Linked DNA regions of Homo sapiens. The protein of the gene in region 2 interacts with the protein of the main gene of each other region in a biochemical or structural test. Each region holds a gene or a part of one and is shown on either strand. Other genes may lie near its edges.

Region 1 (4,568 bases), on a different chromosome or scaffold from region 2:
AACATGACTTACCTCTCTTTTGACTTTGATCGCCTTCTGAGTAGTGAGGTACCTCTCGCTGAGTTTGTCAGGTTTCTCCACTGTAAATGCTACTCTCCCTGTACCACCTGTACTTTGGATTCTTTGGAAGGAAGTCACTATGTGCTGTCCATTCTTATAGGTGTGTAGTATCTTATTGTTTTCCTTGCTTGTACTTTTAAGTTACATGATGTGTATCTAGTAATACATCAGCAGTACCTGGGGATCTTTTTCTCTTGCTTGTGCCAATTCTTGTTCATGTTTTAATGAACAAAAAATGGTCTTTTTTGCATACCTGATTGTTTGATTGTATGATGAGCACTGTGGTACTTTTAGAGTATATAAAATAACATTTTCTTCCTCCAGAGAAGATTTTCATTTACCTGGTGCTTGAGCTACCTTAATCTAATTTCAGGGTTTGAACTTTTTCTATCTACCCAGACAACTTGAAGCAGGGCTGCTTTATGTACAACTCACATGTACTTTTAAGATCCAACCCTCTGAGGTCACAATTCTAAATGTAGGGTGGTTGCAGACCCCTTGTCTTCCAGCCCTTTGAGGCTGTCAATAGCACTGTTCCACTTCTCAGCTGCCCTTTCCAAGTCATCAAGTGCTCCTGGGCAAAACAGCTCCAAATGTTGGGCTTTGTAGTGAGAATTTCTCTCTTCTCCCAGATCTTAACCTGGCAATTCCTCACTATCTTATTAGTTTTTTAATGTTTGGGGTTAATATTATTTTATTTCTTTTTTTCCCCCATCACAGAAATCTGCCTATTGTTTTATTTCATCCACATATTCTAGCCTTCTGTTTTGGGAGGTTTGTCTGTATCACCTAATACACTGTTAGGAGTGAAAACTGGGTCCTGGGTTCCTTTTGCTTCACCCCTCACACTCCAGATCTTTCCCACTGGCTTTAAAAAGTTACAGTTAATATAGCTTTATAATTTACATTTTTGGAAAGAAATAGTGACAAAAAGCAAGAATCTTGACTGCATTCTCCTTCAAGGTTAAAAAGAAGCCTCTGACTTACCAGCCATGGAGTCACTAATCTAAAAAATTATACTACTTCCTTGGCCAGAACTACTATACCTAACCACAGAATACTCCATAATTCTTATACAAAGATAATTTTATTAATGAAAAGATCACACAAAACAAAGTTTTTGTATTCAAAGTTGTCTGTTTAAAATGTGGAAAAGGTAATATTTACAACATTTCCCATACAGTACATAGTTTTTGTGCCTTAACAGAATGCTAAATAGAGAAAAAAACCAAAAGCAAATGCTAAATTGAGAGAAAATCAAAAGCATCAGAAAATCTTGCCCAAAGAATAATACTTAATAGGAAACAAAATTAAGAAAACTCCTTAATATTTTAAAGTATGTTGTATAAAAACGTTGTGTCTTGTTTATTAAAACTACCTTTTTTCCATTTGATTGGCACTAATATCGCTATCACACTTTTTAATGTTCAGCAAAATCCTAGTGAGCTGCCGAAATGAATTCTACAAAATGTCTGAGAAAGGTACTGTATAATACAAAATGTAATATTCTAAATGTTAAAAAACAAAAGTTAAAACAAAAAATATAAGCAACTGTAAGTGGTTATAATACAATCAATGGGTGGTCATGAAACATTAAAAAAGGGAAGTCAATTGCACTTGGCCTAATATACAAAAGACTAACATTTTGTCTACTAACCCTTTAGGACATTTTATTTTAAATATGCAGAAGGATCAGTGAGCAGCATAATACAATCAATAGTGGACACTCTTTGAGTAAGCACCTTATTTCAGTTACATAATTTAGATCTGTGAAATTCCTAAAACGAGACTATAAAAATCACACATTTTAGATGGTAAGGTATCAATAAGTGGGTTTTTAAAGTTAAATTCCTATTATAAGACTTTTTGGTATATCTTTTTTTACAGTATAAAAGAAGACTATTTTACAATTTTCTTAGAAATTCAGTGTAAAAGCTACCAAAGTGCTAAAATATCACAATAGCATGATAAAAATACTTGAATAGGATTTCAAAAAAGTTCAAATACATATAAGCTTATTTTCAAATATGTATAAAAAGATACAAGGATAAGATTTAAATACTTCAGCAAAGAAATATCTTGATTTTATATCAAAAAAGTAAAATAGCATAGTACATCTTAAAATACTCTTACCAAGAGTAGAATCTTCATAAATAGAAAAGGAAGATTCCTCTAACTCTGTCCTCCCACACTATTAAAAAAATATTATTAACCTGCACATTTTCTGTTTTCAGGTATATTGTTGTCATTAACCTTTGTGTGAAATGAGTCATATTATTCTTGAACTCTATTTTTTCCAGTATAACAGTAGGCAATGCAACTTTAAGTGCAAAAGAAGAATGTAACAGTGATTCTTACAAAACAGTGCATAGGTCACTTCCAGTGTAACACAAATTTGCTTCTGAGTAACGAGAGAAAATGTTCTTCAAGTATCTGAATGACAACCACCTCCCTGCTCTTTTCTCACTCCTGAAACCGGGTGAACAAGCAGAGATGTGGAACCTTTGAGGCTGCTTGGTTCTGAAGAACTGGGGACCTGCAAATTGTTGCTCTGTGCCAGGCCAGTGTCAGTAATATCACTCTTTGGACTAATCCTAGATAAAAGAAAAAAAGTTGACACACACACATCCACAAACACAAATATGATGCCATTTTTCATGAGTTTCACCCCTAACCAGTGTCCACCTTTATCAGAGAATAAATAGCTAACAGTCTTCAGGTGTACTTTAACACTTCAAAATACAAATTTTTTTTTTGAGACAGAGTCTCACTCTGTTGCTAGGCTGGAGTGCAATAATAGCGTGATCTCAGCTCACTGCAACCTCCACCTCTTGGGTTCAAGCGATTCTCCTGCCTCAGCCTCCCGAGTAGCTGGGACTACAGGTGGGTGCCACCACACCCGGCTAATTTTTTGTATTTTCAGTAGAGATGGGGTTTCACCATGTTAGCCAGAATGGTCTCGATCTCCTGACCTTGTGATCTGCCCACCTTGGCCTCCCAAAGTGCTGGGATTACAGGCGTGAGCCACCGTGCCTGGCCAAATAATTGTTTAAAATATAATTTTCACTTACTTCAGAAACTTCATCAAGCACTACTTATATATATAGGGCTGAACATGGAATCTTGTGGGGAATAGAATAAGGCAGGATTCCTGTCCTCAGTTTAACAAATGTTTTATTGATTTCCCACCATGGATCAGTACCATGTAAGAAACTGGGAACATAAAGATGAGTAAGACTTTAGCTCTCCCATTGAGAAGGTTACAAATCTACGAGAAGATAAAGCATGTATCTAATTACAATCCAAATATATGAAAGCTGCCATAGGATCACAGAGAAGGTGCATTTAGCCTAGTCTGAGAGGACTAGGTAAGATAACCTTGAGATCTTAATGCAATTAGCTGTCTGCATTCTGGCTTACCTGTGTTTTGGTCACCTATGGCCATTTGAGAAAATTCATTAAAGATAATGTCAATATCTTTTCATGTTCAGAAAATAAAATAATTTTAGATAAAATGACACATTATAATTTTGTATAAGGTGACACTTTTTAGACAGAATTATAATGTAGTATTAATTAAAACTTAGCCTGTATTTTGGGTAAATTGCATTTACTTAAATGTACAAGGAACTCTTAACAATTGCCACAGAAATGAACATTCCTACTTGAACCACCTATATTAAAGCTGTTCTCAAAGCTAAGAATTAAACTACTAAATAGCATATTTATAGGCTGAACCCAAACTTCCTTGGGGTAAGAGTACAGACATAATATATCACAAAATGCTTTCCAAATGTGTTATGCTTTAATAAAAAATGTGTAATGCAGTATTTAAAATAGTGATGATTTTACATAAAATCAAATCTCACCTTCCTTCACTCCGCGCACTTTCAGATACACTGCCTGCCTGGCCCTTCCCGTCGACCTGTTCCCCAGAGAGTCTGGAGATGGATGCTGCTGGCGAGGCAGGTTCACCACAGTCCTGTTCTCTTAACCTGGGGGTGCTAGCTCCGTCCGCTTTCACCTCTCTCATTGATGTTTCTGGTGAGGTTTGGATTTCTGTCAAAGTTTCTTGTCCTAGGTAATCATGGCTAGTAATTGCTACTGCAGAAGTGCCATGATTTGCTGTAGCTCCTGTGCTGGTTCCCATGGATTTGGAAATGACCTTCAGCTTGTGTGAACTTGGTTTATAGTGCTTCTTTTTGTGTTTAACTTTAGAATTGTGCTTTAAGAAAAACTCACATGATTCCTGTAGTACTCTTCGACTTTCACTGATTGGACTATAAGAAAATTGAAGGAGAGGATTTACTCAAATTAGAAGTGTGGCTATAAAGTAGAGGATATAAAGGATATCACATATCTTTTGCCAAAAATCCTTAGTCACTAAAGTTGAAAATTCTATGGTTTATATTATAAAATCTGGGATTATAAATACTAGGACATAAACTGATTTTATAAAATCTTTTGTGTATACACTCTAAGTTGCTTTTGTCAGTATAAATAGTAAA
Region 2 (5,097 bases):
GACAGAGCGAAACTCCGTCTCAAAAAAAAAAAAAAAAAAAAAGAACCACTGGTCTAGGCCAAGCGGTGGCTCATGCCTGTCATTCCAGCACTTTGGGAGGCTGAGTTGGGTGGATCACTTGAGGTCAGGCGTTCGAGACCAGCCTGGCCAACATAGTGAAACCCCATCTCTACTAAAGATACAATGAAACCCCATCTCTACTAAAGATACAAAAATGAACCGGGTCATGGTGGTGGGTGCCTGTGATCCCAGCTACTCGGGAGGTTGAGGCAGGAGAATCTCTTGAACCCGAGAGGCTCAGGTTGCAGTGAACCGAGATTGTGCCACTGCACTCCAGCCTGGGCAACACAGTGAGACTCTGTCTCCAAAAAAAAAAAAAAGAACTGCTGGTCTAATGGACTGAACAAGAACACTCCAGAAATTGGGGGGGCCCACAGCTGGAAGGCTTTCCTTCTCAGTCTTTTTTTGTTATATGCCCCTTATGATGCTTTCCTTTCCCTTTGGAGATCTGGCAGGCAGGTCCTGAGCAAGGAGTGGGGCCCCTCCCTGCTCAGCTCAGACTGGTCTTCACAGTCCCCATTCCCTGTGCCCTGTACTGTTACCTTTCCATTTTTAGCTTAAATGAGACCAAAACAGTCTGGCTGTAGCAGCTTCTGTTGAAAGCTGATGTCTGGCATGCAGCGAGCCAGCCCCCTCTGTCTGCCTGGTATATTTAACCCCCTACCCCTGACACACCTGACTTCCCTCCTGGTACCCCTGACACACAAGGCCCCTAATGTACACAGGGGCTTCCCATCCCAGGGAAATGACAACCGTATGCCCACCGCGCCCCCACTCTCTGGGCGTCGATGATGCAGGGAGGGCATGTCACAAGATGGGGCTCCCTGCGTGGCCAGGAAGGGTGGGTATCAAAGGCTCTGAGGTGTGCAGGGAGGAGCCTGGTGGAGTGGAAAGCAGCTCTGGAGTCAGGCAGCCATAGGCTTTCATCTGGGTCTGCCTCTCTGGACGCATGGCCTGCCAAACCTCCGTGACCTGTTTCTTTACCTTGATACAGCCTTTCAACAACCTTGCGAGGTCATTTTGAGAATTAAATGAGTTTCTTTGCAATTATACATGTGGTTCCCAGAACAGCACATGGCCCCACAGGTGATGAAAGGTACCTGTGATATCACGGGTCTTACTGGACGCCCACCCAAGATGTGTAGCGTCAAACTAGCATAAAACAGCAGATGTATCTCTGTCCAGTGGCACCATGTCCAGATGTTTGTGTGGGACAGGAGTTGCTGGCAGGTGCAGATGGCTCCTGAGCTACCAACCCGCCTTCAGGCTGACACCTGCCGGCCTCTCATCCCCCATGAACTCACTTCTCTTCCTCTTCATCCATGTCAGCCTCAGGAGAAGCTAGGCTTGCAGAAGGCTGCAGTTCCTGAGTGGGGCCATAGACCCTTGCCTCTGTGGCTCTGCCTATTCCCAAGGTGGTGGCAAATGACACCTGCTCCCTGGGCAGGGGAAGCACAGCCCGGGCGGCAGCTTAGCAGGGACAGTGTGGCGGCTGGGCCTTCCTGGTGTCTTCATTTCCCTGTGCAGCCCCACCATTCCCCCTTCTGGACCCTCGCGGACCCCATTTGTACCTCTCTGTCCCCCACCCCCTCCCATCCCCATTCTGCCTCTCTCTTCTCTTTCTCGGGCCCAGAGAGAGGTCTGAGTGGCAGTGAAGGTTCCGGCGTTTCAAGAGCTGCTCTTGTTCCTCTTGCTCTCGGTGGCGCAAGGTGAAGTCCTTATGATGTCCCGGGGTGACCGGGGAAGGAAGGCCCTGCTCATATCCGCCAGCATTCTAGTTCCTGCTGTGCTTGGTGGAAACCAGACAGACCGAAGCAGTCGGCTATAGTCGAGGTTTCTGGGAAACTTACTCACTTTGTAGGAAGTCATTTCCCTCTCTGGGTCTGTTTCCTTATCTGTAAAGTTAGGGGGTTGCCTGGGGGGAATCTGGGGTTCTTTCCTGGTGGTCCCATGCTGCCTTAGCCACCCTCACCATCCTGCCCAGGGCTGGTGTGTGTGGTGGAGGCGGCACATGTGCCTCGGAGAAGGCAGGCAGGAACTGCGGTCCCAGCCACGTGGGCTGCTCGGGGGCGTCCCGCGCAGGAGGCGGCTCCAAGGACCCACCCAACCCTCATGCCCACCTCCAACCTTCACTCTCTTCTCCGTAGGACACTCCCAGTTGCCGGGATGACCTGCTGAGTGACTACTTCCGAAAGGCCAGCGATCCCCCAGCCATCGGAGGCCAACCAGGACCACCTGCCAAGAAAGAAGGGGCCAAGATGCCCACCAACTTTGTGGCCCCCACCGTCAAAATGGCCGCCCCCACCTCGGAGGGGAGGCCGCTGAAGCCCGGGCAGTACGTAAAGCCAAACTTCAGACTGACTGAGGCCGAGGCCCCACCCAGCGTGGCCCCGAGACAGGCCCAGCCTCCCCAGAGCCTGTCTCTGGGCAGACCCCGGCAGGCTCCGGTGCCCCCAGCTTCCCATGCACCTGCCAGCCGCAGTGCCTCCTTGAGCCGGGCCTTCAGCCTGGCCTCAGCTGACCTTCTCCGGGCCAGCGGGCCAGAGGCCTGCAAACAGGAGTCCCCTCAGAAGCTGGGGGCTCCTGAGGCCTTAGGGGGCAGAGAGACAGGCAGCCACACCCTGCAAAGCCCCGCACCCCCCAGCTCCCATAGCCTGGCCCGGGAGCGGACCCCACTTGTGGGAAAGGCTGGCAGCTCCTGTCAGGGCCCAGGTCCCCGCAGCCGGCCGCTGGACACGAGGCGCTTCTCCCTGGCTCCCCCAAAGGAGGAGAGGCTGGCCCCCCTGCATCAGTCTGCCACAGCCCCCGCCATTGCCACTGCAGGTGCTGGTGCTGCTGCTGCTGGCAGTGGCAGCAACTCCCAGCTCCTGCACTTCTCACCTGCTGCAGCCCCGGCTGCCAGGACCAAGCCCAAGGCGCCCCCACGCTCAGGGGAGGTGGCCACCATCACCCCTGTCCGGGCAGGGCTCAGCCTCTCAGAGGGAGACGGGGTCCCGGGGCAGGGCTGCAGTGAGGGGCTTCCGGCCAAGAGCCCAGGTCGGTCTCCCGATTTGGCTCCCCACCTCGGCCGGGCCCTGGAGGACTGCAGTCGAGGGAGCGTCTCAAAGAGCAGTCCGGCCTCCCCGGAGCCCGGCGGGGATCCGCAGACCGTGTGGTATGAGTACGGCTGTGTGTGACTGTCTCGTGGTTGAGCTCGCAAACCTGAAAACTACTGACGCGCCTTCCGACTCTCACGGCCTTTTCTCTTGCTTGCCTGCGGTGCCAGGAGAGGGTTTGGAATGAGGAAAGGGGTTCCCACGCATTTCTGCTGTTTGTTCTGTGAATGGAAACACTGTGCCAAGCCCCAAGAGGATTACGCTTCCAGGTGTGTAACGTGTTTTCTGTGTCTGCCGCTTCCAGCAGCTGATATCTTTGGAACAAATAATCCACGTCAGCATGGGGACCAATTAGGATGCAATGACAAACTGACTTCCCCCAAAGCAGACACTACTCCAGTATGTCCCAGTAGAACACTCATTTGCAATGTGTTGAGCTCCGTTAAGCACACACACACTCACACAACAGGCTTACGAGGCTCAGGCCTGGCGGGTCAGAAAGCCCACTCCCTCTCCCAAGGCCACTGGATCCCAGGAGAAGCCCAGACTGGCGATACTACAAAGGTCTCCAGGGCCTGGCAGACCCCAGAGTCAGGCCTGCTGTTAAAAAGTGAGAGTGCTGCTGTTCCATTCCTGGGGTCCCAAGCACTTCCCTTTACCCCAGGACCCAGGGCAGCCTGCAGGGCAGCTGGCGGTGGCCTTGGCCATTTGCCCCCAGCCTCCAGCTGGCTCCTGAGCTCTGCACCAGGGGGTTTGGGGACCACACAGGCACCTGCCTTCCTAGATTTCCCTGGCTCACTTTTCTGCAAACACTGGATCTGCCAGGCCTGGGGATTGGGGGGCAGGAAAGAGGCCCCCATCCAGCCCCCTCCAGGCCAGTGTGCACAGTGCACCGAGGGGTCATCCGCACAGAGCGAGGTGCAAGCTCGATGTGTAACCTGGCTGCGGCACCCGACATCCCCGGTCTCGGGGTGTTGATTTATTTCTGAATAACTTTTTGGGTATAGAAACCAATTTTTTTTAATATATGACATGTATATGTACACACTCATGTGAAATATGTATACTTTGGGGGGATCTATTTATGTTCCAGTGGGAGTCACTCTCTTCTGTCGGGAATCTTATCTGCTGCTTTGTGTCTTTGGTCAGATTCCTGACAATTTAGTTTCCTGTTGTAAAGGTGCTTTTCCTGGGGTGAACTAAACCTATTGATTTTTTTTTTTTAAGATTTTTTTTTCCTTTTGATTTAATATACTGAGAAAGAAATGGGAGACTTTTGAATGTTAACAAGATCCATTTTAGGAGTGTTTGGGGTTGTGTATTAAATAGCCATTCATTCTGGAACTCAAGGACAGGACTGTAATAAAATGGAATGGAACCGAAGTGCGTTCTGGCTTTCCTCACTGCACATTGTTAGCATCGGGTGGGCCCCTGGGGACTTGGGGCTCCCTGCGCCCCTCCTTATGCACCCCTCCCTCTGCTCCCCTTCCTCTGTGCCCCTGCACCCCTCCCTCTGCGCCCCTCCACCCCTCCCTCTGCGCCCCTCCCTGTGCCCCTCCCTCTGCACCCCTACCCCTGCGCCCCTCCACCCCCCTGCGCCCCTCCACCCCCCTGCGCCCCTCCACCCCCCCTCTGCGCCCCTCCCTCTGCACCCCTCCCTCTGCACCGCTCCCTCTGTGCCCCTCCCTCTGCGCCCCTCCACCCCTCCCTCTGCGCCCCTCCCTCTGCGCCCCTCCACCCCTCCCTCTGTGCCCCTCCCTCTGCACCCCTCCCCCTGCACCCCTCCCTCTGCATGCCGGCGACCCTTCCTCCACAGTTGGAATCCACCACTTTCCTTGCCACTAGGTGGGGGAAGCTGTTACACGTGCAACCAGAGACAGATGTGAAGGACAAAGATTTCCTGTACGGTGACAGCTTTCCACCCCTCCTCAGGTGTGTTTAA

Evidence for each region.
Region 1: the proteins of CCDC88C (region 2) and FZD6 form a complex in vitro, tested with the Homo sapiens proteins (one study listed by BioGRID).

Annotation. Positions count from the first base shown.
Region 1 is NC_000008.11:103,329,427-103,333,994, reverse strand, and holds the end of FZD6 (frizzled-6 isoform a precursor), read right to left. Parts: intron 4,341-4,568; coding exon 3,930-4,340; intron 2,655-3,929; coding exon 2,486-2,654; 3' UTR 1,129-2,485; downstream 1-1,128. UniProt on the Homo sapiens protein: Receptor for Wnt proteins.
Region 2 is NC_000014.9:91,270,764-91,275,860, reverse strand, and holds the end of CCDC88C (protein Daple), read left to right. Parts: intron 1-2,207; coding exon 2,208-3,236; 3' UTR 3,237-4,538; downstream 4,539-5,097. UniProt on the Homo sapiens protein: Required for activation of guanine nucleotide-binding proteins (G-proteins) during non-canonical Wnt signaling. Binds to ligand-activated Wnt receptor FZD7, displacing DVL1 from the FZD7 receptor and leading to inhibition of canonical Wnt signaling.